3 separate regions of the Homo sapiens genome follow, and regions 1 and 3 are each linked to region 2. The links come from fine-mapping of genetic effects on gene expression. A gene starts in region 2. Each other region holds a variant in brackets. All regions are shown on one strand. Distances are from middle to middle.

Region 1 (8,173 bases), 430 kb after region 2:
GCCTCCCCGCCTGTCCGGAACACTTGGAACATGTTTCCCTCGCACGTGACCCCTCGAGATGCTTCTGAGACGTGCCGGGCAAGACGTCACCACAGGGAGCCCGGGCCGAGGCGCACGCCTCTGATTTCCTGTAGCTGCAAGTATATCCAGTTTTCTCAAAATGTTAAAAAGCAAACGCCGCCTTCAGAACTCGCCCTGTGGAGACTCATAGTGAAAGCACGTTCCAGGGAGGCCACTGGGAGGAAATCAGCCTGAGTCTCCAGTCAGCCCCCAGTTCCCAAATGACCCAGGCACAGAAGTTTCCCTGGAGCCCACTTGGACCCGGCAGTGTGAGCGCCATCCTCCTAGGCGGTTCTGTGCTCCTGAGAATCTGGGGCGGATCTCTGCAGTCTTCCTGACCCAGAAACCTGAGCCAGTTTCCACTGAGTTTCTAGAACGCGCCTTCCCCTCCTGGCAAGGCTGCTTCTGTGCCTGACTGAATCACTGTGTGCCACGCCTGCCAGAAGCCGAGAGGCCGAGTCGGGGCCGGGGAGCTGGGGAAAGGCAGCAGGTGGGCCCTGGGACTCCTGCAGTGGGAGCTCTAAAACCCGCTGCTGCCCGTGGCAAAGCGGAGCCTCCAAAACCCGCTGCTGCCCTTGGCAAAGCGGAGCCTCCAAAACCCGCTGCTGCCCGTGGCAAAGCGGAGCCTGGCCACGCCGGGGGTGGAAATCGCTTTCCGGGGTGCTGGGGCTCCGACACTAGGACTCCTTCACCCAGACTCTCCTCACCGGACAGACGCTGGGAAGGGGCCTTCTCCCGGTGGCTTTCCTCTACAAATGAGATGGGTAGGACGGGGCAGAGGGTGGCACCCATGTCCTTGGTTCCCAGCAGGCTCCTCCACACATCCCCGAGAGATGTGTGCTGTCGTCCCAGGACACGGCCCAGAGGCAACCGGCCATCTGAGAGTCCACACTGGGCACTCCCAGCCCTGCTTCTCCCGCCGCCTGCGCCGGCCAAGAGGCATGTGGAACCCACAGCAGACACTTGCTCCAGGGCCTACGTCTGTCTCCATCCCCACCCATCCCTGGAGGAGTCACAGGGACCGGCAGGCTTGGCTGCCCCAAGGCAGGGTCTGTGCTCCCTTGGAGAGGGAGGTGCTGCGATCCCGGGCCCCCCCGCTGCACACTACGTGGGGCGTCTAGCCCCAGACACACTTCCGCGATGGTCTTACTGTGTGACTTTTATACACTTCCGTCATGGTCTTAGTGTGTGACTTTTGTACGCTTCTGTGACAGTCTTATGTGTGCATTTTGTTCATTTTGAGACGGGGTCTTGATCTGTCACCCAGCCTGGAGTGCAGTGACATAATTAGAGCTCACTACAGCCTCCACCTCAGCCTCCTGGGTAGCTGGGACCACAGGCACATGCCACCATGCCTGGCTTGTTTTGAGTTTTTAAATGTGAAAAGCGAGCCCTCTGATATGGGAACCTTCTCCCCCTGGAGCAGAACGGCAGTCAGGCCCAGGGAGTGACCCCAGCACCTTTCCTGGCTTGGGAACACGGCGCCCATCGCAGTTATGAGGTGGGCCTGGAGACACGCCCCTCCCTGGCACGCCCTTCATGGGACAGTGTTGTGTTGCCAGAGGGCCCCTGAGAGAGTCTCCGCGAGCCTGAGCTGGCACCAAGCTTAACGAGGAGGAAGCGGGGTGCTCCCAGTGCCCCTCACCAGTCAGGCATCTGCCACCTGGAACAAGGCACCAGCTGGGGAGGCTGGAAGGGGGTGATTTTTCTCTGAGTTGAAGGGAAGAGGTGACTGAGCTGTTTTCAGAGGGCCACACATAAGCCAGGGACCCTGTCCTTCACCTTCTGGTTGGGGGCTCCTGAGCTCAGGCCCCTGAGTCCGCCTGTCCGGCCTCCCCTGCCTCCCAGGCCCTGTTAGGGCACTGCGCCTCCTGCCTGGCTCTGTGTCCACCAGTGACTCTGTCACCTTGTCCTGGGGCTGTGTCTTCATGGAGACAGATGTCTTTTGAGCTGGGAGGAGGTGAGGGGTGAGTGTTCTGTCTCCATGTGGAAGCTGCGGGGCCCTGCCTCTGCCCCAGGCTGTCCCGTCCTCCGTCATCCTTGCCCCGTGGTACGGGACCCTCAGCCTGATCCTTGTTTGCTGCAGGCGGTGTCAGAGGTGGACATGAGCTTCAGCTTGGCTGCATGTGGCCTCTAGCGGGCCCCATGCACCCAAGGGGGCTGGCCTCCCAGCTCTTGAGGCCGTGGCCTGCCTGGAGCACCTGCCATCCTGGCAGTGCCAGGCCCCTGAGAGCCACATCCCCCTGCAGGTGGAGTTTGAGGACGGGTCCCAGCTGACGGTGAAGCGTGGGGACATCTTCACCCTGGAGGAGGAGCTGCCCAAGAGGGTCCGCTCTCGGCTGGTGAGTGCGCGAGGCTGGCCTGGTGGCTCCGGGTGACTCAGGGAGCCCGTCTGGGACGAGGCAGGGCACAGACTGCGTCTTCCAATGGCGTGGACCACCCCCTCCTCTTGCACCTCTGCTGGAAGGGGGTCCCGGCCGCCCCAGCACAGCTGGTCCATGGGCTCCTGGCAGGAGACCCTTCCTTTGCCTTGACTCCTGGTGCCGCAGCTCCTGGGCGATGCCGTTAATGTGGGGAGGGAGGGTTGGAGAAGCCCCGCCCCTCCCCTTATCACGAATGCAGAACAGACCCTCCCAGCCCCCTGTGCCCTGCAGGACCCGCGCTGCCCCACCCTGCACAGGGCGGCCTCTGAACCATCACAGGTTTTGGGGTACAGGCGAAGTACGGGCACCCCAGTTGTCGGCTTAAAAAAGCTTTTCCTGAGGTTTTTCCTTATTAAACGGGAGCCTGAGTCCTGGAGGCAGCGGAGGCAGCTCCAGCTTTCGCTCCCCCAGCCCTCATGGGCTTCCTTTATTCTCTTTCTAATCGAGAGGCGAGAGGCGAGGTGTTGAGGGGCAGAGCCCGTGGGGGAGGTTCCTGGTCCTGGCCACAGCTGCTCAGCCGCAGAGGGGTCCCTCGGAAAACAGATGGGAGCTGCCAGATGGACGGTCCCAGCCCCAGCCAGGGTGCCCACCCCACTAGGGGGCCAGAGGCTGGGGCCGAGTGCAGGGCCCCTCTGCTGGCAGGATCAGGGGTTTACAAACACGAAAACAGGAGCCTGCTGAGCAGCCCCCACAGCAATCAGGGCTCTGTGTCCAGCCAGCTCCTCTCAGAGGCCATAGACAGTGGCTGGGGCCGCACAGAGTGTCTCCACCGTGCTAACCACTGTGCTTCCGCTCTCCCGCAGTCACTGAGCACGGGGGCACCGCAGGAGCCCGCCTTCTCGGGGGAGGAGGCCAAGGCCGCCAAGCGCCCGCGTGTGGGCACCCCGCTTGCCACGGAGGACTCCGGGCGGAGCCAGGACTACGTGGCCTTCGTGGAGAGCCTCCTGCAGGTGCAGGGCCGGCCCGGAGCCCCCTTCTAGGACAGCTGGCCGCTCAGGCGACCCTCAGCCCGGCGGGGAGGCCATGGCATGCCCCGGGCGTTCGCTTGCTGTGAATTCCTGTCCTCGTGTCCCCGACCCCCGAGAGGCCACCTCCAAGCCGCGGGTGCCCCCTAGGGCGACAGGAGCCAGCGGGAC[G/A]CCGCACGCGGCCCCAGACTCAGGGAGCAGGGCCAGGCGGGCTCGGGGGCCGGCCAGGGGAGCACCCCACTCAACTACTCAGAATTTTAAACCATGTAAGCTCTCTTCTTCTCGAAAAGGTGCTACTGCAATGCCCTACTGAGCAACCTTTGAGATTGTCACTTCTGTACATAAACCACCTTTGTGAGGCTCTTTCTATAAATACATATTGTTTAAAAAAAAGCAAGAAAAAAAGGAAAACAAAGGAAAATATCCCCAAAGTTGTTTTCTAGATTTGTGGCTTTAAGAAAAACAAAACAAAACAAACACATTGTTTTTCTCAGAACCAGGATTCTCTGAGAGGTCAGAGCATCTCGCTGTTTTTTTGTTGTTGTTTTAAAATATTATGATTTGGCTACAGACCAGGCAGGGAAAGAGACCCGGTAATTGGAGGGTGAGCCTCGGGGGGGGGGCAGGACGCCCCGGTTTCGGCACAGCCCGGTCACTCACGGCCTCGCTCTCGCCTCACCCCGGCTCCTGGGCTTTGATGGTCTGGTGCCAGTGCCTGTGCCCACTCTGTGCCTGCTGGGAGGAGGCCCAGGCTCTCTGGTGGCCGCCCCTGTGCACCTGGCCAGGGGAAGCCCGGGGGTCTGGGGCCTCCCTCCGTCTGCGCCCACCTTTGCAGAATAAACTCTCTCCTGGGGTTTGTCTATCTTTGTTTCTCTCACCTGAGAGAAACGCAGGTGTTCCAGAGGCTTCCTTGCAGACAAAGCACCCCTGCACCTCCTATGGCTCAGGATGAGGGAGGCCCCCAGGCCCTTCTGGTTGGTAGTGAGTGTGGACAGCTTCCCAGCTCTTCGGGTACAACCCTGAGCAGGTCGGGGGACACAGGGCCGAGGCAGGCCTTCGGGGCCCCTTTCGCCTGCTTCCGGGCAGGGACGAGGCCTGGTGTCCTCGCTCCACCCACCCACGCTGCTGTCACCTGAGGGGAATCTGCTTCTTAGGAGTGGGTTGAGCTGATAGAGAAAAAACGGCCTTCAGCCCAGGCTGGGAAGCGCCTTCTCCAGGTGCCTCTCCCTCACCAGCTCTGCACCCCTCTGGGGAGCCTTCCCCACCTTAGCTGTCTCCTGCCCCAGGGAGGGATGGAGGAGATAATTTGCTTATATTAAAAACAAAAAATGGCTGAGGCAGGAGTTTGGGACCAGCCTGGGCTATATAGCAAGACCCCATCACTACAAATTTTTTACAAATTAGCTAGGTGTGGTGGTGCGCACCTGTGGTCCCAGCTACTCGGGAGGCTGTGGTGGGAGGATTGCTTGAGTCCAGGAGGTTGAGGCTGCAGTCAGCTCAGATTGCACCACTGCACTCCAGCCTGGGCAACAGAGCGAGACCCTGTCTCCAAAAAAAAAAAAAAGCAATGTTTATATTATAAAAGAGTGTCCTAACAGTCCCCGGGCTAGAGAGGACTAAGGAAAACAGAGAGAGTGTTACGCAGGAGCAAGCCTTTCATTTCCTTGGTGGGGGAGGGGGGCGGTTGCCCTGGAGAGGGCCGGGGTCGGGGAGGTTGGGGGGTGTCAGCCAAAACGTGGAGGTGTCCCTCTGCACGCAGCCCTCGCCCGGCGTGGCGCTGACACTGTATTCTTATGTTGTTTGAAAATGCTATTTATATTGTAAAGAAGCGGGCGGGTGCCCCTGCTGCCCTTGTCCCTTGGGGGTCACACCCATCCCCTGGTGGGCTCCTGGGCGGCCTGCGCAGATGGGCCACAGAAGGGCAGGCCGGAGCTGCACACTCTCCCCACGAAGGTATCTCTGTGTCTTACTCTGTGCAAAGACGCGGCAAAACCCAGTGCCCTGGTTTTTCCCCACCCGAGATGAAGGATACGCTGTATTTTTTGCCTAATGTCCCTGCCTCTAGGTTCATAATGAATTAAAGGTTCATGAACGCTGCGAAACCCCGTTCCATGCCCCGGCAAGTGTCTTCATTTCTGAGCCTGTGCTAGGGGGACTGATGTTGGGGCCTCCCTGGGGTGGGGCTGCCTGCGCCCCGTTCTCCCGGGAGAAGGTTTGCTTCCAGAGCTGGATGTCCCTCCCCTCCCACTCTCCAGGGTCCCCAACACACCCCCACACACCCAGGGGCAGCTGTCATGCCCCTCATGCTGTGGCCAGGCTGGGTGGCTGGGGCAGCGGACCCCATGATTCCCCCTCAGTTCTCTGGAGGCCTGGCCCTGGCCTCACTCGTCCCAGCCAGCAGCTGCCCTGTCCCTGTCCCCCATCCGGTTCTGGTTACATCTGAGCCCCGAGAGCATTGCTTGTGGTGGTGGTGGCTGGCAGACGTGCTAGGCGCTGGGGCTCACGGCCCTGGATGGCCACTGGGACCCAGCAGTCCTGGCCTGGGTCACTCAGTGCCCAGCCCCACCAGGCCTGGAGTCGGCAGAGGGGACACGGGAGACCTGAGCCTCCCTCAGGGAGGTGACCCTCCTGTGCCTGGTGTGCGGCAAGAACATGAAGAGGCCCCTGTGGCTGGAGCAGAGGGAGGCAGGGGAGAGGGGGAGGAGGGGAGGCAGGGTGTGCAGGCCCTTGTGGGTCTCGGGAAGGACTTGGGCTTTGACCCTGAGGGAGGTGGGAGCCATGGAGGGGTGTGGGCAGGGGAGGGATGGGCCCTGACTCAGGTGCTCACAGGCGCCCTCTGGTGATTGCTGTGGGGAGGAGACGGGGTAAGGGCAGAAGCTAGGGACCAGGGCAGGGGTCAGGTGTAGTGAGAAGTGGGTGGATTCTGGATGCATTTTCAGTGCAGAGCCAATAGGATTCGCAGATCACCCGAGCCCCTGGAAGGAGGCGTTGAGCTGGGAGGGGGTTGGATTTGAACACCAGACGTCCAGGTGAAGGTGCTGGGTCTGGGGAGGCCGCCCCAAGGCAGGTGGTCAGGGGCCGTCAGCTGGCAGGTGTTGGAACTAGAGGATGAAGTCACCTGCAGGGAGTGGGTGGAGGTGGGGTGGGACCCAGGACTGGGCCCTGGGTGTCTGTGGTGGGACGGGGGCTGGGACACCCGGAGAAACCCAGGCCCAGCAGCCAGGGCTCGGGGGGACGCGGCCAGGCCATCCCTCCCTGGGCCCCGGCGTTCCCTCTGCAGAAGGAGTGTCCACCTGCCTGCTGTGCCGAGGGCTTGTGTCCTGAACAGAGGGTGCCCTTGACAAAAAAGCTTCATCCACCTACTGCCCCCAGCACCGACTCTCCTTTCTGGGGCCCTCTCGCCTCCAGCATCCTCTCAACACCACCAGGACTCAGTTCCCCTGTGTGCTGCAGGTGGGGAGGAGGGATCCAGGGTGGGGTGAAGCCCGTGGCCACAGGAGGCTTGGATGCTCCACCTGCTGCGATTTCCCGACAAAGACTGTGTCCCTCTTTTCTCCATCTCGAAAGCCTTCCCTGTGTGCGGGGACAGACACAGCCTGAAACCAAAGCCTCTGGGGTGCCCCCCCGCCCGCCCTAGGCCCTGTGAGGTCAGCGTCCCTGGGCCTCCCCAAGCTGGCAGAGGGGCCGTGGCAGGAGCAGGTGGTGCCTGCAGCGTCCTTTCCATTGTTCTCCAAAACGCTCTAAAACGGGAAGGCTATTTGGGACAGGCTGTTGCTGTCTGCCGAGCAGAGTAAAGATGAGTGGATAGGTCCCCAAAAGTGTCACCGTGCGGAGCCGATGAGGTCTGCACTCGGGCCGGGGTGGGTGCCCCGATGCCGAGGTCTCGTATCTCGGGGCAGTGTGTGAGACTCCGTAATCAGCACCTGAGTTTGGTTCATTTATTCCAGCTGCAATATTTTTATGCAACCTCTGTGCCAGGCTCTGGGGACACTGCTGAGGAAAAGGGAGAAAAAAACAAAAATACATCTTTAATGCATGCTCTGAAAGACAAGAACGGGGTCAGAGATGGAGGGTAAGTGGTGGTCGGTCACAGACCACCAGAAGGGTGTCAGTGGACACCCTTTTTATTAAAGAGGGACTCTTAAACAGATATGACCCCCCGATGGGACGGCAGATCAGAGAATCAGGCTGTGGGTACATTGTGTTGAGAGCAGGCACCTTCTAGGGCAAGGCCTGGCAACCTACAGCCCTCCGACCAAATGCAGCCCGCCACCTGTTTTTGTCAATAAAGTTTTGTTGGCACATGGACATGCCCATTCATTTACATATGACAGCTGGCGCCCCGACAACAGCAGACCTGAAGAGTCACTGCAGAGCCCACCTGGCCTGCAAAGCCCAATGTATTTAGAATCTGGCCCTTTATGGGAAAGAATGTGCTCAGCCCTGACTTAGAAGAAGTGGGTGGTGGCAGCCTCCACCCTTTCTCTATGCCTGCAACAAAATGTTCTCCCATAGGGACAGCCCCTCAGTGCCCAGGTCCACCTTGGCTCTCAAAGGCTTCCAGTTAGATGGACAGTGGGCAGCCAACTGCCCCCGCTGCCACCCGCAGGAGCGGGTGGAAAAAGGAGGCTTTGACCAGGGACTTTGATTCATCTGTCCATCTGTCCGACCCACTGGGGGTGCTCTGCCCTCTACCCTTGGGCCACCTGCTGCCCAAGTGCTGGG
Region 2 (8,173 bases):
CCAGTTCCTGCTTTTGATATGACTTGCTCTTTCTTGCCCTGTGGCTCCTGATACCACCTCTTCAGAGGTCTTTCCTGAGCACCCCATCTGAAGATGCTACCTGGCGACCCCCATCACCACACCCAGACGCTGATACAATGGCCTGGACCATAATTCCAGTTGTCCCCTTCCCCAGGGAGAGTGGTTCTCAACTGGGGGCGATTTGGCCCCTCAGGGGACACTGGACAATGTCTGGAGACATGTGTGGCTGTCACAACTCGGGGGTGACCCTGGCATGGAGTGGGTGGAGCCCAGAGATGCTGCTTAGCACCCCACAGTGCCCAGGATAACCCACCTCAGAGAAGGATCCCACCTCAAATGTCAGCAATGCCAAGCCGGAGACCCCTGCATCCATTACTTGGGGAGAAACTTGAGTTCAACGCCTACGCTCATATTAATACTGGAATAAACTTCCCATGGAACAAGCATTCTAAACGAGGGGGACCCCCAGCTCCTGGGATTCACCTCCTTTCTCCCTCCCCACTCAGGGTGAGGATTTCAATGTGTGCAGCCTCCTGGGACCTTAGTAGGGCAGAGGATCATGGGACGCAGTCTCTTGGGGATCCATGGAATCCCCTAACCCAGGGGTCTCACCTGGGGATAACCGGCCCCCCCAGGGGACATTTTTGGTTATGACGACTGGGACGGTGAGGGGAGGCATGTGGCCAGTGGAGGCCAGCGATGCTGCTCAACCCCTTACAGTGGACAGAACAGCCCCCCTCCCACTCCTCTGCCAAGAATGACCCAACCCTAAATATCAGTGGCAAAGCTGAGAAACCCTGCTGTGGGTAAGGGGGCACTCCTCACGGGAATATCAGTTCCACAGGGCAGGCCACATCTATCCTGGTCCCAACAGATTGCCTGAGCCCAGACCATGCCTGGTCCTCAACAAACATTTCAGGTTGAATGAATGAGCTACTGTGCTTTCTTGGATGCCGTCTAAAGTCAAAGGGGCCCCTTGTTTGGTTGGTGCCCAACTACCTTCTCAGACAAGCCAGGTCCCATGATGCGCAGTTGCCCAAAGGCTTAAAGAAGAGAGGGCCAGCTGGGTACAGTGGCTCACGCCTTTAATCCCAGCACTTTGGGGGGCTGAGGCGGGCAGATCACCTGAGGTCTGGAGTTCGAGACCAGCCTGGCCAACATGGTGAAACTCCAGCTCTACTAAAAATACAAAAATTAGCCAGCTGTGGTGGTGCAAGCCTGTAATCCCAGCTACTCAGGAGGCTGAGACAGAAGAATTGCTTGAACTCAGAAGGCGGAGGTTGCAGTGAGCTAAGATTGTGCCATTGCACTCCAGGGGTGACAGAGCGAGGTTCTGTCTCAAAAACAAAAGAAGAGAGGGAAGCACATGGGGACAGGACTGAGATTTTAAGGGAAGAGGTTAAGCATAAAGTCACCACGAAAAATCACTGGCCATACTCTCAGTCCAGTGGTGAAAAGCGTGGGCTCTGGTCTCAGAGAGAAAGGTTCAAATCCTGACTCTGCCACTTCTGGGGAAGTCGCTGAACCTCTCTGAGCTTCCACTTCCCCAGCGAGAACATGGTATGACAGTATCTACGCCTGGGGCCACCAAGGGAATTGAATGAGACTGCACACATACAGCTTTTAACACAGTGTCTGATGTAGCACAAACTAAATGACAGCTAGCATTGTCAACTAAACAAGATACTCAAAACCACAGGAAGGGGGAGACTCAAACTAAAGTCCTTTCAGGGCCAGAATCCACACCATTTACTGACCGGGTCAGGCAGTGTAGGTGGATCCAGGCACCCCTCCACCAAATCCTGCTGAAATCAGCACTCTCCCCTTCCTCTCCTCAAAGCCTTCAAAAAGCTCCTTCCAGGGGCAGCTAGAGGGGGACAGGGGTGGAAAGAAAAGCCTCCAGCAGGCGCACAAAAAACTGCAGCCACTGCCCTGCGGAGGACAACCATCCAGGGCCATAGAAAACCATTTCCTGCCCATGTCTATATTCTAGAGCAGGCAAAGGAATCCCACCAGCCCACACCCCAGCCTTCCTGGCTGCCAAACCCCAGCACAACTGACCTTCTAAAGGGTCCAGAGAGCCTCCATTCCAGCTGCAGGCGTGGGACACAGACCTTTATAGGATAAACATGTCATGAATGTGGCAGGTTAATGGAAGCACCGGCCAGCCGTTCAGCCTCCCCCACTCAGGAGCTGCAGACTGTCAGGCCCGATTCTACCTGGCTAGATTCTAGCTCTGCCTTGAAGCCCTGCAGCACTGTCTGCATGCCCTGGACAGAATCTGGGAGAGAAGCCATCCCACGGGCCCCGATTCCCCTGGGACCCAGCAGAGGAATGCAGGGATTGGTGCCTACGGTCCACACCCCCTGGGCTTTAGTCCCAGCTCCTCGAAAGCAGGTTGGTTCTTGCCTGGGAGGCAAGTGACTTCCTCCTGGGGCCCCTGGGGAAGACCAGGGGGTGGGGGCCAAGGGAATAGACCACTTTTGATGGCTCAGAGGCAGCGTGAACAGGGAAGTGTCAGGGCTGGCCTAAGGCTGTGTGGGAAGAAGGTAGGCGGTTGGACAGGCCTGAGAAGGGAGGCTGAGAGAAGGGGGCTGAACCCTGTGGGCTGGACCCTTGGAAGACAGCTATGCTAACCACTACACCACCAACGCCTCGGCAGGAAAAAGAGTCTCTGGATACCCTTAATAGAGGGATCAAGTAGGGTTGAGGATCAGGACTGGATTGGGGAGACCAAGCCTCGGGGCGAAGGTTGGAGGAAGTGGTAAAGGAGTGAGGACAGGATGCAGGTCGAGGGAGGTGGCCTCTGTGCATATACAGCATTTGCATGGGGAGAGGGAGGAGATCGGGACCTCCAGAGCCTGCACGAAAGGGGAGAGGGTGTCAAGGTCTGCAGCTACGAGGACGTTCTTGGGTGCGGCCACCTCCGGAAGGGGTCAGAGCCTGGTGGCCTGGGCAGCAACGGGATGGGTGGGGAAGCCCATCAGGGAAGGGGAGAAACTGGGAGGTGGCCTGGCCAGCGCAGGAATCGGGGAGGGAAAGAAGGTGGAGGAGGGCCTGGGGCGGAGAGGAAACGAGGCAGGGGGCCGGAGGGACCCACAGACGGGTGCATGGAGGCTCCGGGGTGCGGGGAGGCCAGGCGATGGCGAGGGCAGGGTCAGGGCCGAGGCGGGGCCGGTCAATGGCGGGTTCAGGGTCGCGGCCGGGGCGGGACGAGGCGCGCGGGCGCTGCTCACCGGGACGTGGGGCGGCGGCCGGACTGGGCAGGTCGTCCCGGGTCCAGCGGCGCCTCACGGTCGCGGCTCCATGCCCGGGACTGCGACCCCGGAAGTGGCGGGAGCGGGGGACGACAGCCGCGGCGGACACAGGGGACCCGCCGGCTCAGGCACCTTTGACCCGGAAGTTGAGCGACCCAGGCGGCGGCCTGGGATTGGACACCACCAGGCACGTACCAAGGCGTCCGCGGCGCTTGGGGGGGAGCCCGCGGCGCGGCGGCCTAAGGTGCGTAACGCCCCATGAACGACATCTTCCGGTGGGTTAGGGAGAGACACCCCCCTGTGACTTGGTATCACTCAGTCAAACCCATGATCCCCCACTATTAAGGATATCCGGAGAGGATGCTACCTATCAGGGCGTTGGTGGTATAGTGGTTAGCATAGCTGCCTTCCAAGCAGTTGACCCGGGTTCGATTCCCGGCCAACGCATGCGGTACCACTTTTGCGAGTTTGAAATTTTCATTTTAGTTTTGAGACGGAGTCTCGCTCGGTCCCCCAGGCTGGAGTGCAGTGGCGTGATCTCCGCTCACTGCAACCACCACCTCCCAGGTTCAAACGATTCTCCTGCCTCAGCCTCCCAAGTAGCTGTGATTACAAGCGCACGCCACCACGCCCATCTAATTTTTGTATTTTTAGTAGAGATGGGGTGGGGTGGGGCGGGGTGGGGCGGGGTGGGGGGGGGGGGGCGGTTCACCATTTTGGCCAGGCTGGTCTCGAACTCTGACTTCAGGTGATCCGCCCTCTTCGGCCTTTCAAAGTGCTGGGATTACAGGCGTGAGCCATCAATCACGGAAAATTTTTTTAAATCCCATAAAAATGTCTAAAAGGCAGGAGGAAGGCGGAAGAGAAAGAATGGGACTAGAATCGTTCTTTCGGTGAATTTCAAATAGTATTACTCTCCGGTTAGGAAAAACAGCTGACCTGTTTCCGCCCGGGATCGAACCGGGGACCTTTCGCGTGTGAGGCGAATGTGATAACCGCTACACTACGGAAACCGGTAGGCGTCAGGGTTCTTTAAATTCTCCTATAGAGATAATGTTGCAGTGATAGTTGCGTTGTCCCACCAAAGAAACACTGGCTACAGTCAGCTAAAGCAATATCCGCTCTTCCTGAATATCTGTTATTGTATTTGATACAGTAGAGACCGAAAGAAGGAAAATAAGGAAGACAAAAAGAAATCCAATAAACACCCTTTCCAACACACCCACCCACCCACACACATGTTTATCACTTTATCATAAATCCACCTTCCATTAAAACAATGCACGTCAAACGGCCCACAAACCCATCCGGGGTCAAATGAAGCTTTTCATCTCATAGATATCAATCTATACTTGATATCACATTAGTTTCTGCAGATATTCACCATTTTGCTTTAGATCAAACTACTTTTTTGTGTGTTTTGTTTTTTGTATTTTTTAGAGAGAGTCTCGTTCTGTCGCCTAGGCTCGAGTGCAGTGGTACGATCATCCCTCCCTGCAGCCTCCACCTCCTGGGCTCAAGCGATCCTCCCACCTCAGCCTCCTGGGTAGCTTGGACCACAGGTGTGGACCACCACGCCTGGCTGAATTTTAAAAAATGCGTTTGTAGAGACGGTGCCTTATAGCTGGGACTACAGGCGTGTGCAACCACTCCCAGCTAACTTTTGTATTTTTTGTAGAGACTAGAGGGCCTGCACTATGTTGCCCAGGCTGCTTTCCAGCTCCTGACCTCAACGTGATTCGCCCGCCTGCAGCCTCCCAAAGTACTGGGATTACAGGCATGAGCCACCGCGCCCGACCCCAACTACACTGTAAAAGAGCTTTCTGAAAAGAAAAACTGTGTGTGTATGTGTTTACCTTCCGATGGAGTTTTGCTCCTGTTGCCCAGGCTAGAATGTAGTAGCGCAATCTCAGCTCACTACAACCTCCGCCTCCCGGATTCAAGCGATTCTCCTGCCTCAGCCTCCCAAGTAGCGGGGATTACAGGCACCCGCCACCACGCCTGACTATATTTTGTATTTTTACTAAAGATGGAGTTTCGCCATATTGGTCATGGCTGGTCTCGAACTCCTGACCTCAAGAGATCCGCCCGCCTGAGTCTCCCAGAGTGCTGGGATTACAGGCATGTGCCACCACGCCAGGCCTCTTTATTTTCTTAAAGAGACAGTAGAAGAGGTGGGAAGATGATGGCAAGAATTTAGAATCAGACTGCTGTAAAATTCTGCACACCCTCACTCCTGCGGGGCTGGGATTAGGGTGAGGAGACTAAAGCATTGTAAGGCACTGGCACCAGGTGCAAAAATTAAGGTGGTGCCAAAAAACTCAATAATCAAGATAAATAATATTTCAATACATCTTTTTTTCTCTCTCTGTTGTCGCTGGAGTACAGTGGCACAATCTTGACTTACTGCAACCTCCACCTCCCAGGTTCAAGCTATTCTCGTGCCTCAGCCTCCCTAGTAGCTGGGATTACAAACATGAGCCACTATGCCAGGCTAATTTTTGTATTTTTCGTAGAGATGGGATTCCACCATGTTGGCCAGGCTGGTCTTGAACTTCCGAGCTCAAGTGATACGCCCGCCTCCGCCTCCCAAAGTGCTGGGATTACAGGCGTGAGCCACTGCACCCCACCATAATATTCTTTTAAAAATTAGCCGGGCGCAGTGGCTCACGCCTGTAATCCCAGCACTTTGGGAGGCTGAGGAGGGCGGATCACGAGGTCAGGAGATCGAGACCATCCTGGCTAACATGGTGAAACCCCGTCTGTACTAAAAATACAAAAAAATTAGTCCCAGCTACTCGAGAGGCTGAGGCAGGAGAATGGCGTGAACCCGGGAGGCGGAGCTTGCAGTGAGCCGAGATCGCGCCACTGCACTCCAGACTGGGCGACAGAGCGAGACTCCCTCTCAAAAAAAAAAAAAAAAGAAAGAAAATTTAATTATTGGTTGGCCGGGAGCGGTGGCTCACGCCTGTAATCCCAGCACTTTGGGAGGCCAACACGGGCGGATCACGAGATCAGGAGATCGAGACCATCCTGGCTAACACGGTGAAACTCCGTCTCTACTAAAAATACAAAAAATTAGCCGGGCGTGGTAGCAGGCGCCTGTAGTCCCAGCTACTCGGGAGGCTGAGGCAGGAGAATGGCATGAACCCGGGAGGCGGAGCTTGCACTGAGTGGAGATCGCGCCACTGCACTCCAGACTGGGCGACAGTGAGACTCTGTCTCTAAATAAATAAATAAATAAATAAATAAATAAATAAATAAATTTAAACAAATAAAAATAAAATAATTACTGGTAAATAACTCCATCATGAACAAATTGTCAAAAGTTTCCATTGAGGCAAGTTTTCGTAGAGATTTGCCAAATTCTATTGGAGTCTAAAATGTGTACCTCTCTGTGCCTGTTTTTATGTGTTTTGAGGGGTTTTTGGGTGTTTTTGAGACAGGGTCTCACTGTCACCCAGGCTGGAGTGCGGTGGTGCAATCACAGCTCACTGCAGCCTCGACCTCCTGGGATCAAGGGATCCTCCCACCGCAAGCCTCCCGTGTAGATGGGACCACAGGTGGGTGCCACTATGCCTGGCTAATTTTTAAAAAAATTTTTAGTAGAGATGGGGTCTCGCTATCTCTCCCAAGCTGGTCTCAAACTCCTGCGCTCGAGTAATCCTCCCGACTTGGGTTCCCAAAGTGCTAGGATTACAAGGCTGAGCCACTATCCCTGTCCTGATTTTATGTATTTTAATGGTTATTTCTCTCAGAATGCTGTTGAAACCATATTGAAACATTAAAAGTAGATATATTAAAACTCACAACATTAAGAATGTATTCTAGGCCGGGCGAGGTGGCTCACGCCTGTAATCCCAGCATTTTGGGAGGCCAAGGCGGGCGGATCACTGAGGTCAGGAGTTCGAGACCAGCCTGGCCAACATGGCTAAAACCCATCTCTACTAAAAATACAAAATTAGCCGGGGGTGGTGGCACACGCCTGTAATCCTAGCTACTCGGAAGGCTCAGGCAGGAGAACAGCTTGAATGCAGGAGGCAGAGCTTGCAGTGAGCTGAGATCTCGCCACTGCACTCCAGCCTGGGCAACAAGCAAGACCTCTGTCTCAAAAAAAAAAAAAAAAAAAAAAAGACTGTATTCTAGCAAGGGCAACATAGCAAAACCCCATCTCTACAAAAAATATAAAAACTAGCTGGGTGTGGTTGTGCGCACCTGTAGTTCCAGCTACTTGGAAGGCTGAGGTGGGAGGATTGCTTGAGCCCAGGAGGTCAAGACTACAGTGAGCCATGATCATGACAAGCACTCCAGCCTGAGTGGTAGAGTGAGACCTTGTCAAAACACACACACACACACACACACACACACACACAACAACAACTCACTATGATAATTGTGCTTTTCTGGCTTTTTTTTTTTTTTTTTTTTTTAGACAGAGACGGAGTCTCGCTCTGTTGCCCAGGCTGGAGTGCAGTGGCGCCATCTCGGCTCACTGCAAGCTCCGCCTCCCAGGTTCAAGCCATTCTCCTGCCTCAGCCTCCTGAGTAGCTGGGACTACAGGTGCCCACCACCACACCTGGCTAATTTTTTGTATTTTTAGTAGAGACGGGGTTTCACCGTGTTAGCCAGGATGGTCTCGATCTCCTGACCTCGTGATCCACCCGCCTCCGCCTCCCAAAGTGCCGGGATTACTAGGCGTGAGCCACCGTGCCCAGCCAGTGGCTTTTTTGTGTGTGTGTATTTTTTTTTAGATGGAGTCTCACTCTTGTCCCCGAGGCTGCAGTGCAATGGCACGATCTCTGCTCACTACAACCTCCACTACCTGGGTTCAAGCTATTCTCCTGCCTCAACCTCCAGAGTAGCTGGGATTACAGGCACCCGCCACCACGCCCAGT
Region 3 (8,173 bases), 170 kb before region 2:
TCATGGCTGGAAAGGAGGCCCTGGGGACCAGAAATGGAGGGCAGGACCCTCTCACCCCATGCAGGGATTCATGGATCCACCTCTGCCCCCTCACTTCGCATGATCAGAGCCTCTCAACTTCATGCCCCACTGCACCGGCCTCACCTTCTCCAGGTAGTTAAACTCCATCGCAATCTCCCGGAAGAAGAAGTAGACATGGCTGCCCCACTCCACCGCATGGACAAAGTAAGGCTCTGCAGGACAGGAGGGGTCAGAACTCAGCCCCTGACATGACAAAGGGGGTTTCTGGGGCTAAGAACTCACTGGCTTTTATGGTGAAGGGGGGACATAGGCTGGTTACCCAGACAATATGAAACAGACTCAAAGTTTGGTATTTTGCAGGGGAAGGGAGGTCAGAAGCCTAAAATCGCTGTGTCTCTTGCTGCAAATGGCAACATCAACTATTTTTTGTTATCTTCCTCCCTCATGTGTTGAAGAGCTGAGTCCTGCTATATCTTTTCTGTGGTTCCATTTTGGGCTTCTAAGCCACCCACTTCCAGCGGGTTCTACTTTAGATCCAACTAAACTTGTTCCTCTAGCTTTCTAGTCTTCAAAAAGGCCAACAGATTCCAAAGATGTGGTGGAAATCTCTCCACCAAGCTCCTCTGGGACTCTTATTCTGGTGGGGAGATTTGATGAATGTCAGGTTCTGGGCCCTGCCAGGTCTGGGCCCACTGCCCTTCCTGGTCTCACCTTTGAACCACTTGGAGTCATGTTTCACGGTGCGCAGGGTGGGCCTGTCCCCGAGGCTGCGGTAGATGACAGCATCAATGGCTAGGAAGTCGGTAACAGTAGCTGTGAAGAGCATCCCGTCTGGATGGGGTGGGTGGGGAAGGCAGGCAAGAGATGAGACCGCAGAGGCCAGGGGCTGGGTGGGTCGAAACTCGATTTTCTGAGACTGAGTCCTGAGCCTAGGGGAGCCCCTGTCTCCAGGCTGAGCCCTGATCCCATCCAAGCCCCACCTCCATCCAAGCCCTGACCTTAACTGAGCCCCTGACCCCGGCTAAGCCCCAAATCCCGCTGAGCCTCAATCCCAGCTGAGCCCCAAACCTGGGCTGAGAGTCTGCCCATGTCACAGCTGGGACAAGTGGTCGTCCAGCTGCCTTCTAAACAACCCAGACGCTGGAGTAGAAAATGCCAGGTCTTGCCTGTGGCTGGGGCTGATCAGATGGAGGTTGGGGGGGTACTTACCAGAGAAGAGGGCAACATTGGCGTGCTTGGGGTCGTACGGGCAGCGGGCCATACCGCTGATGTTGTCTCCGACGGGCTGCAGGGTGTCTATCTGCAGGGACCATGGGGCCTGAGTGACAGATCTCCTGACCCCACCTAGCAGCCCCTGGCTCCCTCAGCCCCCCACTCCAGGGGGAATCCTGATCCACCACGGATTACTGTGTGACCTTGGCCACTCACTTAACCTCTCAGGGCCTCAGTTTACTGATCTGTAAATGGGTTTAAGAGTCAATGCCTAGTTAGACCTGTAACTGGCTCATTACCTAAGTAGCTACGGCTTCCCCGGCCCCCTGTACAGGCCTCGTTTGGACAGCGCTGACTCCTCTTGAGCTCAGGGGGAGGAGGCAGGGAGAGTATATCCAGGAAGGCTTCCTGGAGGAGGTGACACGGCCTGGGGAAAAGCCATGGCCAGCGGAGGTCGGGCGAGCAGAGGCCTGGAGGTTGGACCTGGGGCGCAGGGAGTCTGAAGACTCACGCTGTAGTTGGCGCACACCGGGTTGAAGGCGTTGGAACCGCACACAAAGAGCGTGGACTCGTCCCGAAGGAGCAGCACCTTTACGAAGTTTCGACACTCGCCCTGAGGTGGGGACAGGAGGAAGCGGGGAGCGCGATGTGGGCGTGGTCATGGTGATGGGCGTGGCCAGAACCTGAGTTGTGTGGGTGGAGGGCCGGTCTGTTGTGGGCATGGCCAAGGCAGGGGCTGAACCTAGGACTGGCTGGGGACACGGTGCGACCCAGACAGGGAAACACTTTGTATCAGCAACGCAGGCAAGGCCAGGATGGTGGGCATTGTCAGACTGTGGGCATAACCATGGCAATAGCAGAGTCCTAACCTGGGATGGAGGAGAAGGATCCGCCCTGGGTGTGGTCACGGCCGATTGGGGTGGGGCATGGTCGTGACCAGAACTAACTGGGGCGTGGTGGGCACGGTTATAGCTGATTGGGGCCAAGTTGGGAGCGTGGCCAGAGCTGGTGGGGTGGGCGTGGCCTGGGCTTATTGGGGCGGGCCGGGGGCGTGGGGGGCGGCAGGACTGATAGGGGAGGGGTCGGGATGGGGACCTGATCGATTGGGTGGGGAGTGAGCTATTGGGTGGCGTGTGAACATGGCCTGGGCTTGTTGGAACGAGGCTGGGGGTGGTGGTAGGACTGACAGGGGCAGAAGTGTGGGCATAGCCAGAACTATTTGGGGCGTGGTTATGGATAATTGTGGCTAGGCTGGAGGCCGGGCTAGGACCAATTGGGTGGGGACGTGGACGTGGCCATGGCTGTTTGGGGGTGTGGCCAGGGCTGGCAGTTGGGCGGGGCCAGGGCTGATTGGGGGTGGGTTGGGGCGTGGCCAGGGCTGGCGGGGTGGGCGTGGCCTGGTCTGATTGGGGCGGGGCATGGGTAATGCCAGGGCTGATTCGCAGGGGCCGGGACCGAGCCAGGGCCAACTCACCTCCTGTTTGCCCTTCATCCGACACACGTTTATGTCGCTGGGGTTAGATCTCCAGGTCAGCTTCTGCAGACAGAGAGAGCTGGTGAGGGGGTAACGGGTCCCAGCAGCCCTGAGTGACCCCGCCGTGCTGGGCCGAATCCACCCAGCTCCCCGGCGCAGTGCCGCGTCCCCCTGGCCCTACCCCTCCACTCCCACCTGCACCCCTTCCTCACCCTCTGGTACCGCAGCTCCGTGGACGTGGGGGGCTCCAGCTCTACGCGGTAGAGGTTGTCCCTGGGGGAGGGGCATAGTTAGTGAGAACTGGGGGCTCCGCCACCCTCTCCCGTTCCATCCTTCCCACTGCCAATGTGGTGTGCACACGGGGGCATGCAGGGCCATGCCAATGCCTCTGACACGAGCAACTCTAGCGCCGACCACACCCCCCCAAGGGCCCCAGCAGGCCTTCATATCCTGCACTCCACCTCCTGCCCGGCACGCCCCACGGACTGCCCCCAACACCATGTCCCATGGCCTTAGGTCAGGTGCCCCACTCGGCGCCTCCCAGGCGCCCACCAGGCTCTCTCCCCTCACACCCTTGCCGAGGAAGCCGCCCTGCTCAACGTCATTGGTGACCTCGTGTAGTTAAGCCCAGTGGTCACTTCCGCATCCTCCTCATCCTCTCCAAAGCATTTGATCTGTCCGGTCTCTCTCCTTCCTGGGAAGCCCATCCCTAGAAGCCCCGTAATCTCACACTTGCTTCTCCCCACGACAGCTTCCACCTGGTCCAGCCTCAATCATAGCCAGCCTGGACAGCCCAGTCCCCTCCACCCTGGTCCCCTGGATTCCATTCTCGCCCCCTCCCAGAAGCAGCCACCAGAGGGCGGGCGCGTGTGAGCACCTGAGTCAGGTCCAGTCCTTCCCCTACCTAAAACCCTCCGTGGCTCCCACCTTCCTCCGGGTCAAAGCCTAAGTCCTCCCAATGGCCCAACAGGCCCTGCACGACCTGCTCCATCCCCTCCCTGCCCTCGCCTCCTCTCTCTCTCCCCCTCGCTCATTCTGCTCGTCACACAGGCCTCCTTGCTGTCCCCAGCAATACCTGTCCCCAATGAACAGCGTCCTGTTGACCCGCAGGACTCGCTGGATGTTGAGGTCGTCAGCACCTTCTGCGGGGGTCAGGCGTCCGGGCCCGCTGCCCACAAACACGGGATAGTGGTTCAGGTCTGAGTGAGGGGGTGGAGAGGGGTGTGAGCAAGGGCTGGGGGTGAAGAGAGGGTGGCCTGAGGTCATGCCCCTTCTAGGGGTGGCTCCT[G/A]GACTGCTTGAGTCCCCCAGTGGGGGCAGCAGACCCAACTGGGAACCCAGATACTCCCACGGGACTCCACCCCCGCCCAAAGACACCCCCAGACTCACAGTCCCTGGGGGCCACGCTAAGCGGCGGCGGCTCCTCAGGAAAGAGGCCGTGGGCGCCCCCCAGTAGCAGCAGCAGAAGCAGCAGGGCCGGGCGGGGAGGGGACGCTCGCGGGGTCTGCATGGCGAGGGCCAGGCGACAGGAGGAGGTGACGCCTGCGGGCAAGGGGCGGCGAGGTGAGCGGCCTGCAGTCCCGCTCGTGGCCACAAGACGGCGGGCGAGAGCAGCAGACGCTCCTTCAAATCCCAGAAAAATTCCTCACGGGGATAATAATTAATAAAAACAATAATGGCAATAATAATAATAATACACAGCACTGATTTAATTATCAGAACAACTTTATGGCCACGTGTGCGTGAAAGCCCAGGAAACGACTTCAAACAAAACTGCATTCGGTAATTTAAAACTAATAATAATTATTATAATAATAGATACAAATATCCTAAAACATATATTTAAAAATGCAATCGCAAAATACATGCATAAAAATACTTAGAATTAAAACACAAAAATATTAAACTCAAAGGCTAAAAAAAAAAAGAGTCAAAGGCTCTTGGAATTTTATAAGCCACAAGCTGGCTGTGTGTGGTGGCTCACGCCTGTAATCCCAACATTTTGGGAGGCCGAGATGGGAGGATCATCTGAGGTCAGGAGTTCAAGACCGGCCTGCCTAACATAGCGAAACCCTGTCTCTACAAAAAAATACAAAAATTAGCCAGGTATGGTGGCCTGTGCCCGTAATCCCTGCTACTGGAGAGCTGAGGCAGGAGAATCCCTTGAACCCAGGAGGTGGAGGTTGCAGTGAGCCAAGATCGCACCACTGCACTCCAGCCTGGGCAACAGAGCAAGACTCCATCCAAAAAAAAAAAAAAAAAGCCACAAGCTGGGAATGACAGTACTACATAACCACAGAATCACAGAATATTCCCCATGCCAAGGGCCTCTGTGACCCTGGTAGATCTGACCTCCTTCCCAAATCCAGCCTTTTCATTCTCCGCTTGCACACCTCCATGACAGGCACCTCACTACCTCTCACGGGGGACTGCTTCCCACTCCCATTCAAGGTAACTTTGCAGAAACTTCTAGGTGTGTGGAGTGGAGACACTCTCCCATCCAGGTAATGACATAGCAGCGGAATTCACCCTCTGAACCCCCGCCCTCCATGCTGAAGGTCCCAGTTCAGAGCACCCCCTACCAGAAAGGGGTACAGTCCAGGTCCCGGAGCCCCGAATGAGAAGTTCAGCAGCCTCGTCCTTCTGGGAAGTATTGGGCAAGCTCCGAGCCCATTTTCCTGTCTGAGCAGCAGGGGTATCCCCCAGCCCTGCCCTGGCCTTCTGGCTCAGGGATTCTGAGCCCCCAGAGGTGAAGGTGATTCGCGACAATCGGCCCTGGGGTGCCTGCCCCCTCCAAAAACAGGAAGACCTCGCATAGCGCGGCTGGACTTCCTCTTCACGACCCTGAGCTTCCAGGATTTGTGACTCAGCGAACACCCGGATTCCACGTGTGTTCAGGGCACGGCCCTGTTTCCTTCAGAATTTCCTTCCCTGGCTCCTCCCCTGCTCTACAGCCTCCTGTGGCTCCCAGGGACCCCTGAGTCCAGGCCCCAGCCTCTCCCTGGGATTCAAGGCCCCTGACCTCAGACCCCACTTCGGCCTACCCTCCCCTCATGCCACGGGCCTTTCTAGCCCCCTACCCCAGAACCTAACTAAGAGCCCTGTCTGCCCTGTGCCTTTAAAAAAAAATGGCTAAAATATATATAACATAAAAGCTGTCATCTTAACCATTTTCATTTAACTATTATTAGTAGTATTATTATTTGAGACAGAGTCTTGCTCTGTCGCCCAGGCTGGAGTGCAGTGGTGCCATCTCAGCTCACTGCAACCTCCCCCTCCCGGGTTCAAGCGATTCTTCTCAGCCTCCCAGGTAGCTGGGACTCCAGGTGCATGCCACCATGCCCGGCTAAATTTTTTTGTATTTTTAGTACACATGGCGTTTCACCATGTTGGTCAAACTGGTTTTGAACTCCTGACCTCATGCTATCCACCCACCTCGGCCTCCCAAACTGCTGGGATTACAGGTGTGAGCCACCATGCCCAGCCTCCTTCATTCTTATTATTTTTTTGAGATGGAGTCTCGCTCTGTCACCCAGGCTGGAGTGCAGTGGCATGATCTTGGTTCACAGCAATCTCTGCCTCCCAGGCTCAAGCGATCCTCCCGCCTCAACTTCCCAAGTACCTGAGACCACAGCCACGTGCCACCACGCCCAGCTAATTTTTGTATTTTTAGTACAGATGGGGTTTCACCATGTTGGCCAGGCTGGTCTCGAACTCCTGACCTCAGGTGATCCACTCGCCTTGCCCTCTCAAAGTGCGAGGATTACAGGTGTGAGCCACCACGCTCGGCCACCTTTTGGTTTTTTGACAGTCGCCATCCTAATGGGTATGACATGCTGTGTCTTTCATCTTGTGTTTTATCAGAATAATATTTAATTCTAGAAACTATTTCTTTAAACATTAAGAGACAGGGTCTGGCTCTGTTGCCCAGGCTGGAGTACGGTGGCACAATCACCACTCACTGCAGCCTTGAACTTCCAGGCTCAAGCAATCCTCCTACCTCAACCTCCCGAGTAGCTAGGACCATAGGTGTGCACCACCAAGCCTGACTTTTTTTTTTGCCGGGGGTGGGGGACGCAGGGGAAGGTGGACAGAGTCTCACTCTGTCACCCAGGCTGCGATGCAGTGGTATGATCTCGGCTCACTGCAACCTCCACCTCCCAGGTTCAAGCAATTCTCGTGTCTCAGCCTCCTGAAAAGCTGGGATTACAGGTGTGCACTGCCACGCCCGGTTAATTTTTGTATTAATTTTGTAAAGCACTTTGTGAGGCCAAGGCAAGAGGATCACTTGAGCTCAGGAGTTTGAGACCAGCCTGGGCAACATAGCGAGACACGCCCCCATAATCTCTACAGAACATAAAAAATTAACCAGGCATGGTGGCACGTGCCTGTAGTCCCAGCTACTTGTGAGGCTGAAGCAGGATGATTGCTTGAGCCCAGGAGTTCAAGAATGCAATGAGTTATAATTGGTCCACTGTACTCCAGTCTGGGCGACCGAGTGAGACCCTATCTCAAAAAAAATAAAATTAATTTAAATTAAAACAACGACAAAAAAACACCTAGCAAACATAAAGCACTTGCTAGGTGCCAGGCATTATCATAAGTACTTAAATTAACTCATTTAATCTTCACAGCACCCCCAAGGGGTGAGTGCTCTTTTTTTTTTTTTTTTTTTTTTTTGGAGACAAGAGTCCTGCTCTGTCGCCCAGGCTGGAGTGCAATGGCGTGATCTCGGCTCACTGCAACCTCAGCTTCCCGGGTTCAAGCAATTCTCCTGTCTCAGCCTCCCAAGTAGCTGGGATCACAAGTGCCCGCCACCATACCCGGCTAATTTTTGTATTTTTAGTAGGGATAAGGTTTCACCATATTGGCCAGGCTGGTTTTGAACTCCTGACCTCAGGTGATCCACCCACCTCGGCCTCCCAAAGTGCTGGGATTACAGGCATGAGCCACTGCCCCCGGCCAATTTTTGTATTTTTAGTAGGGATAAGGTTTCACCATATTGGCCAGGCTGGTCTTGAACTCCTGACCTCAGGTGATCCACCCGCCTCGGCCTCCCAAAGTGCTGGGATTACAGTTGTGAGCCACGGTGCCCGGTGGGCCCTTAACTGTTTTTAAGTACACACAGTTCACTAGCATTAAGAACATCCACATAATTGTGCACCCATCACCACCACCATCTCCAGAACTTTCTCGACTTCCCAAACTGAAATTCTGTCCCCATGAAACACTCACTCCTCACCCCCCTCCCCAGCCCCTGGCACCTCCCATCCTACTGTCTCAGTGAACCTGATGACTCTAGGGACTTCCTAGGAGTGGGTCACACAGTGTTTGTCCTTGCGTGTCTGGCTCTCTCACTGAGCGGGATTGCCTCAAGATGCATCCACACTGTGACCTGTGTCAGGGTTTCCTTCCCCTTTTTTTTTTTTTCTTGTTTTGAGACAATATCGCTCTGTCTCCCAGGCTGGA

What was found. PIP is the estimated chance that this variant, and not a neighbour inherited with it, causes the effect.
Region 1: its variant is fine-mapped to the expression of DPP9 in whole blood (TOPMed, PIP 0.98).
Region 3: its variant is fine-mapped to the expression of DPP9 in whole blood (TOPMed, PIP 0.99).

Annotation. Positions count from the first base shown.
Region 1 is chr19:5,148,049-5,156,221 of GRCh38, forward strand. It overlaps KDM4B (lysine demethylase 4B), which reads left to right. Exons shown (of 23, transcript NM_015015.3): 22 at 2,310-2,402; 23 at 3,287-5,550. The coding sequence ends at 3,463. Among named protein-coding and RNA genes, the nearest start is that of PTPRS-AS1, 26 kb to the right of the region's middle. RefSeq lists enhancers at 3,216-3,987, 5,918-6,418 and a silencer at 6,176-6,235. The variant G/A (reference allele first, on the strand shown) is at 3,620.
Region 2 is chr19:4,720,417-4,728,589 of GRCh38, forward strand. It overlaps DPP9 (dipeptidyl peptidase 9), which reads right to left and starts at 3,426. Exons shown (of 22, transcript NM_139159.5): 1 at 3,258-3,426; 2 at 2,083-2,135. TRG-TCC1-1 (tRNA-Gly (anticodon TCC) 1-1) reads left to right here and starts at 3,654; the gene lies at 3,654-3,725. It overlaps TRV-CAC3-1 (tRNA-Val (anticodon CAC) 3-1), which reads right to left and starts at 4,291; the gene lies at 4,219-4,291. LOC105372250 (a long non-coding RNA gene) reads left to right here and starts at 2,464. Exons shown (of 3, transcript XR_936274.2): 1 at 2,464-2,570; 2 at 4,204-4,293; 3 at 4,719-5,171. RefSeq lists silencers at 3,227-3,376, 3,607-3,696, 4,147-4,346.
Region 3 is chr19:4,554,244-4,562,416 of GRCh38, forward strand. It overlaps SEMA6B (semaphorin 6B), which reads right to left and starts at 5,441. Exons shown (of 17, transcript NM_032108.4): 1 at 5,287-5,441; 2 at 4,094-4,246; 3 at 3,783-3,906; 4 at 2,920-2,980; 5 at 2,708-2,770; 6 at 1,745-1,846; 7 at 1,231-1,321; 8 at 733-852; 9 at 145-233. The coding sequence starts at 4,214. RefSeq lists an enhancer at 2,494-2,788. The variant G/A (reference allele first, on the strand shown) is at 3,996.